2 linked regions of the Homo sapiens genome follow. The protein of the gene in region 1 interacts with the protein of each later gene in a pairwise test. Each region holds a gene or a part of one and is shown in the gene's direction. Other genes may lie near its edges.

What was found.
Region 2: the proteins of NUP88 (region 1) and CD82 interact in a two-hybrid assay, tested with the Homo sapiens proteins (one large-scale study listed by IntAct).

Annotation. Positions count from the first base shown.
Region 1 is NC_000017.11:5,406,034-5,409,850, reverse strand, and holds part of NUP88 (nuclear pore complex protein Nup88), read left to right. Parts: intron 1-941; coding exon 942-1,118; intron 1,119-3,817. UniProt on the Homo sapiens protein: Component of nuclear pore complex.
Region 2 is NC_000011.10:44,568,358-44,572,174, forward strand, and holds part of CD82 (CD82 antigen), read left to right. Parts: intron 1-3,817. UniProt on the Homo sapiens protein: Structural component of specialized membrane microdomains known as tetraspanin-enriched microdomains (TERMs), which act as platforms for receptor clustering and signaling.

The DNA of each region.
Region 1 (3,817 bases):
CTCTCTTACTTCCTTCAGATCTTTGCTCAAATATCTTATCAGAGTCTTTCCTATACCAAGTAGTCTAAAGTAGCACCTCCATCAATACCCTCTTACCCTACTTTATTTTTCATGATATTTTCTGAGTTTATGTTCCATCTTTATTTCTTCTCTTTTTGTGGTATTTCTCTCTCTAGAGGGCAGGACATTTGTTTAATTCACTGACATATTCCCAGACCCTAGAAAAGTACCTGGCACAGAGTAGGTGCTTTGCGAGTATTTGTAGAACTTACGGATCCTGCTGCTCAGAGACAACTGTTGATGTTTTCATGTGTTTTCCTGTTTCCTTTTTGCATTTATGTGTGTGTATATAATAAATTTTTGCTATTTGTATATCTGTGTATTTAAACTATTTAAGATGAGAGTAGAACCAAATAATTTTATGGCCAGCTTTTTTCACTTAATTTCATGAGAATTTTTTTTTTTTTTTTTTTTTTGAGACGGAGTTTCGCTCTTGTCGCCCAGGCTGGAGTGCAATGGCACAATCTCGGCTCACTGCAACCTCCGCCTCCCAGGTTCAAGCAATTCTCCTGCCTTAGCCTCCCAAGTAGCTGGGACTACAGGCACCTGCCACCACGCCCAACTAATTTTTGTATTTTTAGTAGAAACGGGGTTTCACCATGTTGGCCAGGCTGGTCTCGAACTCCTGACCTCAGGTGATCCACCCACCTCGGCCTCCCAAATTGCTGGGATTACAGGCATGAGCCACTGCACCCAGCTGAGAATTTTTAAATGTTAACATTCTTCATAATCATTTTTTGTCTTTTCAGTCCATTGCCTACAAATTCCATACATACCCACCTCCTGTTATTAGACATTTTGTGTTTTTGTTTTGTTTTGTTTTTCTTTTTACTTTTTGTTGTTTTTGTTTTTAACAAGTTGGTTTTTACATCTCTTTCCAGAAGGGCGTATACCGCATCTCTAGGAGAGACAGCAGTTGCATTTGACTTTGGGCCATTGGCAGCAGTCCCAAAGACTCTATTTGGACAAAACGGCAAAGATGAAGTAGTGGCATACCCACTGTACATCTTATATGAAAATGGAGAGACTTTCCTGACATACATCAGTCTGTTACACAGGTAAGTTGAGGTGGTCACCCACCTGAAATGAAAACTCAGTTTGGGCTCCAGTAGATATCATTGAGGCTGGACTTGGGAGCCATGTTTTTGAGTCTGTGGAAATGTTGCAGCCTTCACATGCTTGGCTTGCATATTTTTGAGAAAGAGTTAGTACAGGTCATTTGGCCTTTCATTTCTTCATATTATTTGGGTAAGTTCTATAGAATTCTTGGATAATCACTTATGATAGGCCTGGATTTGTGTTCACAAATTCTAGTTATCCGAACAAGTGCTTATTGTTTATCTTATATGAACAAGACACCACGTAGGCGTGGTAATCTGGTATCTTATGTCCCAGTTGTGGGGAGAAAGATACATACACATGAAAAAATACTATCCATACCACAGTATTGGTACACAGACAGTAAGAACCCCGAGGAAGGAGAGATCATTCTGACTGGGAGGTTAAGGAAATTTTCGTAGAGAAGGAGTGGTGTCATGTGTGACTTAAAGGTCTCATTCAGGATTAAATGAAGTATCAAGGAAGAGTGAGACCATTTCTGTCAAGGGCAGCATAAAGTAGCGTCTGAAAATAAGCAAGTGCAAGTGTCATTCAAGCTTAATTTATTAGACATTCTGGGCTAGAGCTGAGGATTCATGTAGGGAGCATTAAGTGATAAAGCTGGAGTATCTGTCCCGAGAAAATTTGCTGGAATTAAAAATACCTCGTTAAAAGAGTGAGTGTGGGTTTTTTTTCTGTAGGAATAGGGTAGTAGGAAGCCAGTGATGGTTTCTGAACAGAAGGACAAAACAATTGGTTAGGGAGGGGACTGGGACAGAGACTTTTAAAGAAGCTTTTGCAAAATTGAGCTTGTCATTTATGAGAGTTTGAACTTGGGTGGTAATAGAACAGAGGGAAAAATGAAACACAGTAGATAACAACAAAGGAAGGATAAATAAGACTTAGTTACTGTTTGGATAAGGGAGTATGCCATGAACAGAAACAGGTCAGTAAAGGCTGCTAATTGGGGGAGAAGATTTATTTCTAAGTAAATCAGTGTAAGATAGTATTGGACCAATAAAATGGAAATATTCCATGGACAGTTGGAAATACAGGATGATGACAGACAAGAAGAATTAAAATAGAGGTATGAGAATCATCTTTCATGGTGAGAGAGTCTATACAGGATAAGAATTTGAGGGAAAACTGCAGAGGCATAAGGCTAAGGGCTGAGCATTAGAGTTTATTCGCTTGTAAATCGACTTAACAGATACTTATTCAGGACCCACTCTGGCAGAAGATGGAAATACAAGATTGAAGGCAAGGTTCCTGCCATGTGGTTCCTTAACTACCAGAAGGGCATACAACTAAACCAGTAACTATAGTACAGTGTCATGTGCTCAGGGCATCACCGGGTTCTTCAGGAGTGTGATGGAGTAAATGAGTAGGCCTGCTCATCTTGGAAGACTTTAAGGAAATGCTATTACAAAAGCTTGAACTTGAAGGATTCACTAGACAGAATCAGAAGTGGGTACAGGAGAGAGAAGAGAGTACGCAAAACCATAAAGATTAGAAAGATGAAAGAGCTCGGTAGGTTACAGAATGGTGAGGATTCACTGTTGAGTGCATTCTCCTTGGCAGAAATGTTCTCTGCCTTTCACACATGATCTCAGGAGGATTTTGTGGTAACTTTAGTACCTTCCCTTACCCTTTCTCCTCTTGCTGCTGAGCCCTCATTTGTCCAAACCATGATCTGCCTAGTAACGTTAGCCCAAAACCCAAAAGTTTTCTTCATCCTTACATTTCATCAGTCCCAAATTTCTATTGATTTTGTGATTTAAATTTTTCGAAAGTATACACCAAGCTTGTCCAACCCACGGGCTGCGCGCAGCCCAGGACAGCCTTGAATGCAGCCCAACGCAAATTTGTAAACTTTCTTAGAACATTATGATATTTGTTTGCGATTTTCTTTTCTTTTCTTTTTTTTTTAAAGCTCATCACGTATTGTTAGTGTATTTTCTGTGTGGCCCAAAACAATTGTTCCAGTGTGGCCCAGGGAAGCCAAAAGATTGGACACCCCTGATTATACACCCTTCTCTGCATTCCTCTGTCCCTGCTTCAGAACTGCATCATCTGCCTACTTCACCATCTGCCTGGCTTATTTTCTTAAATAGTTTCCCCAAATCCCATTTTGGACCCTTCCATGTCTTCCTCCCTAATACCAGACTGATTTGTAAAGTGAGGCTCCATCGCTTGATTTAAACCTCTAGTGATATACTGTTACCCGGCAGATAGATTTCAAATAGTTTAACATAGCACACAAGACTGTGTACTTCATAAGCCAGTCCTGGATGTCTGTCTAGCTATTTTGCCGTTGCCTTCCACCTTGTACTTTGCCTCCCATCATACTAAATAAGTTTTCTTGTTCTTAGTTCTTTGTCTTTCATGTTTCCAGGACTTTGCATAAACTGATCTCTAGCTTGGAATGCTCAACAATCCCCTTCCCAGAAATCATTCTTTCTCATTTTTCTCATTTATTTTTTATAGCTTTCTTCATTATCTTTGTATCTTTTTGTCATTCCTTTGTACACCATAAATCCTTCTGTTGTTGCACTTATCACATGGTATAGTAATTCTGGTTAAATGTCTGCCTCATCAACTAAACCATCATTCACTGGGAGTATCATCTAGCACTCAATAATAAGTATTTGTCAAATCA
Region 2 (3,817 bases), on another chromosome or scaffold:
TATCCTGTCTGGTACATAGCAGGGTCTCAGGAAGGTGGCTGGATTGGGTGAGTGGCGGGGTTGCTGGGAGGGTGATGAATGCTACAGAGGGGTTTGCCCATGAAGGGGAGGCATCTGGGCCGAAAGGTGGGAGCCTGTGCCAGCCAGCAGTAAGTTTGGGGGTCGGGGGCGGGATGGTTAGAAGAAGTGCCTGCTGATCCCTCCCTCCCATCCCAGCCCAGGGAGGATAGGGGTGAGAGGTCAGCCATGTGCTATCTCTGGCAGTGGGTGAGCAGTCAGGGCACAAGTTTCCCACAGTAGGGGGACTGGGGCAGGATTTTGGCTTCCCTGGGCTCCTCTGAAGTTTCCGCTATGTGGGGGCGGCCCCCTCTGTCTTGAGGCCTCACGCTTTAGAGCCACAGCCTGGAAGCTCCCACCGGCCATCCCCTTCCACCCTGGGGACCCAAACCTGTTCCCCTAAGGACCAGACAGTCCTCCCTCAACCCATGGCTGAGCAGCCCCAAGTTCTGAGTGTTGTTTCAGATTCGGAGCATCTGGGGCCAGCTGGCACCCCTGATTCTGGCTTGACCTTGGCCTTGGCCTTCTGCTCCAAACCGTTATACCCACTTCCTCTGCCCCATGGGAAGCTCACAGGGGGCGGTTATGACTTAATCAAGAACATCAAACGGCCAGGAGCTGGCTCTGTGAGAGGTGGGAAGGGAGGGAAGAGCCTGGACTGTTTGGCCTGGGCCCCTCTGTGGGACAGGACCCGTTTAATCTCAGCAGGAACTGCCCTACCCACCCGCTTCCCCTCCACTAAGCCGGGGTCTGAGGAGCTGGGAGGGGAAGCCCAGAGGTAAACATGGAGTGAGTGGTGTGGGATGTGTTGCTCCCCTCGCCCCTGATGCTGCCCTAAGAAGAGGCAGACAACCACAGACCCGGGGCCTCTGCAACAGGCCCAGCTGGTGTCTCTCGGAGGCTGGCTGGTTCCTGACTCACCCCCGGGCTTCCCCTTCCACTGTGGTTTTCCTGTCAGCAGCTGATTCACTGTGCTGACATGGACAGGCAGCTGATGGAGGAAAGAGACCTGTGTTCTGGTCCTTGGAGTTGGCTGCTGCTCTGCTGTGTGTATGTTGTGTGACCTTAGATAAGTTCCTTCTCTCTGGGATTCCTTCCCTGACTTGCTGATGCCCCATTCTTTCCTTGGCTCTCGGGGAGTTCTGGGACCTGGGATCTATCCTTTGCAAAGTAGGGCATGTCTGTGAACACCCACCCATACTCAGGCATGCGCACACACACAAATACAACCCCAACACAGAGGAGCTGGGCAGCTCCCCTCAAAGAGCACTTGATCCTACCTCCCTATTTTTACCTTGTTTCCCCCACCTGAAGCACCTTTATCTTCTTTCTGCCTGTTAACAGATTAGGGAGATGATGGTACAGCATGGCGGTAAAGCACTGGACTTTAGAGTTGAGATCTCGGCCCTGCCAATTTCTGGCTACGTGACTCTTTCTGAGCCTCAGTTTTTGAACCTGCAAATGGGGATAATAATGGTCATGACTTCATAGGTCATGAGGAGAAGACAAAAAAGTGCACATGAAATGCTTAGTATTGTTATACCTAGCACATAGTAAATGCTCAATAAAGGAGAGCCATTGTTGTTTGCTGTATCTGGTTGGTCTTTCAAGGCTGGTGCCAGGCTCCTTCTCAGGCCCCCAGGGACACTCCCAGAACACCTTCCTTCTGCACAGGGCCTCTGTGCCTCTCCAATATGTGTGTGCCCCAAGACGCCAGTCATGTCTGGCTATGTGGGGCTCTCTGGCTCTTCCTGGGGGTGGCTGGGTCTCCTCACTGTGACGCTCAGCTTCCTGAGGGGCAGTAGGTCTGAACATCTCTGGCTGCCTTTCCCAAGCCCCTCATTGCCCTTCACCTTCTCCTCTGTGCTTGGCTGCCTTTCCCAAGCCCCTCATTGCCCTTCACCTTCTCCTCTGTGCTTGTCTACACTGTGTACCCTCCTCTTTGATCCTGCCACTTTGTGGTGTATGATGTGTTTCCATGAGCTCTCCTGGGCAGGCACTGCCCTGTCCTGTCTGTATCTCTGATTCCTGGCATACAGCAGGCACTTGGGGATCGATGACTGAATGAATAGGTTAGTGGTTCTCTTGGGTGAGGCCGGGGGTATCAGCAGTACCTAGCTTGGTACCACATACCAGGTGACTCCTTGGCAAAGTGGAGCCGGGAAGCAGGACCTGGATGCCACTGCCTGGTGCTTCAGGCCTGTGGGCCGCACTTCTGCAACCTGGATCCAGGGAGATGGGAATGCACCGTCTGTCCTGGAATTGCTTTCAGCAGAGCTTCTGCTTCTCTTCCGATGCCTGGCCTTTATTACCCTCCTGAGAGGGGAACAGCATGACTTCCTTCAGTCCTAACCCAGGAAGGGGCCACTCTGGCCTTTAGTGAACTCTGACTCAGCCAGAAAGAGCATCTTGGAGTCAACAATTGTTTGTGGAAGGTGCTGCTATCCTGTGGGGACTCAAGCTGGGGCCTGGAGAAATGGGACGGTGGCCTCCAGGAAGCCCATCCTGGACATCATCCATGCAGACCCCCAGGTGGGCAGCTCTGGGAAGCCCCACTCTCCCCTCTGACCTCCTACCCTGCAGCAGAAGCTTTTGCCTCTTCTCCGCCGCCCCACCCCGCAACTTGACTTTCCCTGCTGTGTGGAAGGGTGATCTGGTGTGGGAGTTGTTCAGAGTTCTGGGCCTTGGCTCTCAGTGTCAATGTGGAGAAGTGAACAATGCCCTGGTAGTTGGGCATTAGGAAGCCCGGGTTCAAATCCTGGCTCTGCCATGGAGCTACAGCATGACCTTGGCCAGAGAGGTGACTTCTAGGCAGGTTTTCTTCCTTTTAGGCAGCAAGTGTTCCAGAAGCCTTCCTGAGTCCCAGCTGGGCTTGGGCCTGGGGGAGTGGGGAAGAAAGCCTGGGCAAGATCACAGACTCTGGAATCAAATTGCCTAAGGATGATTCCCGCCTCTGCTACTTACCAGCTAGGCGTGACTTTGTGTCTTACCGCTCTGTGCATCAGTTTCAGCATCTATAAAATGGAGACAATAATAGTACTCATCTCATAGGGTTGTTTGAGAATGATATATGAGCTAATGCATATGAAGCATTTAAGACAGCGCCTGGCACATAGTTAGTGCTATATATGTTCCTGCTGCTTTTGGTAGTGTTTTATTTTTATTTTTATTTTTTTTTGAGACAGAGTCTCACTGTATTGCTGAGGCTGGAGTGCAGTGGTGCAATCTTGGCTCACTGCAACCTCCACCTCCCGGGTTCAAGTGATTCTCGTGTCTCAGCCTCCTGAGTAGCTGGAATTTCAGGCATGCACCACCACACCAGGCTAATTTTTGTATTTTTAGTAGAGATAGGATTTCACCATATTGATCAGGCTGCTCTCAAACTCCTGGCCTCAAGTGATCCTCCAGCCTTGGCCTCCCAAAGGGATTACAGGCATGATCTACTGTGCTCGGTGTTTTTGGTAGTGCTGTTAATAGGAAGCAGGATGTAAGTCTTTGAAGAGCTTGAGTCTGGAGATCAGGGGACCTGGGCTCCGTTCCCAGCTCATCTTTTACTTGCTGTGTTATCTTGGGTAAGTTATAGCCCTTCTTGGGCTACAAAACTATATTATCTTGCATTTGCTGCACTTGGCTTTTGTAAGTGAGGCACATGTGATGCCACAGTGGACGGCTGCAGGGTTTTATTCAGGGGAAGGACTCCTGGGGGCCTGGCTTATTCTCCTGCAGCCTAGGAAGGAAGGAAGGCTGTAGTGTGGGCAGG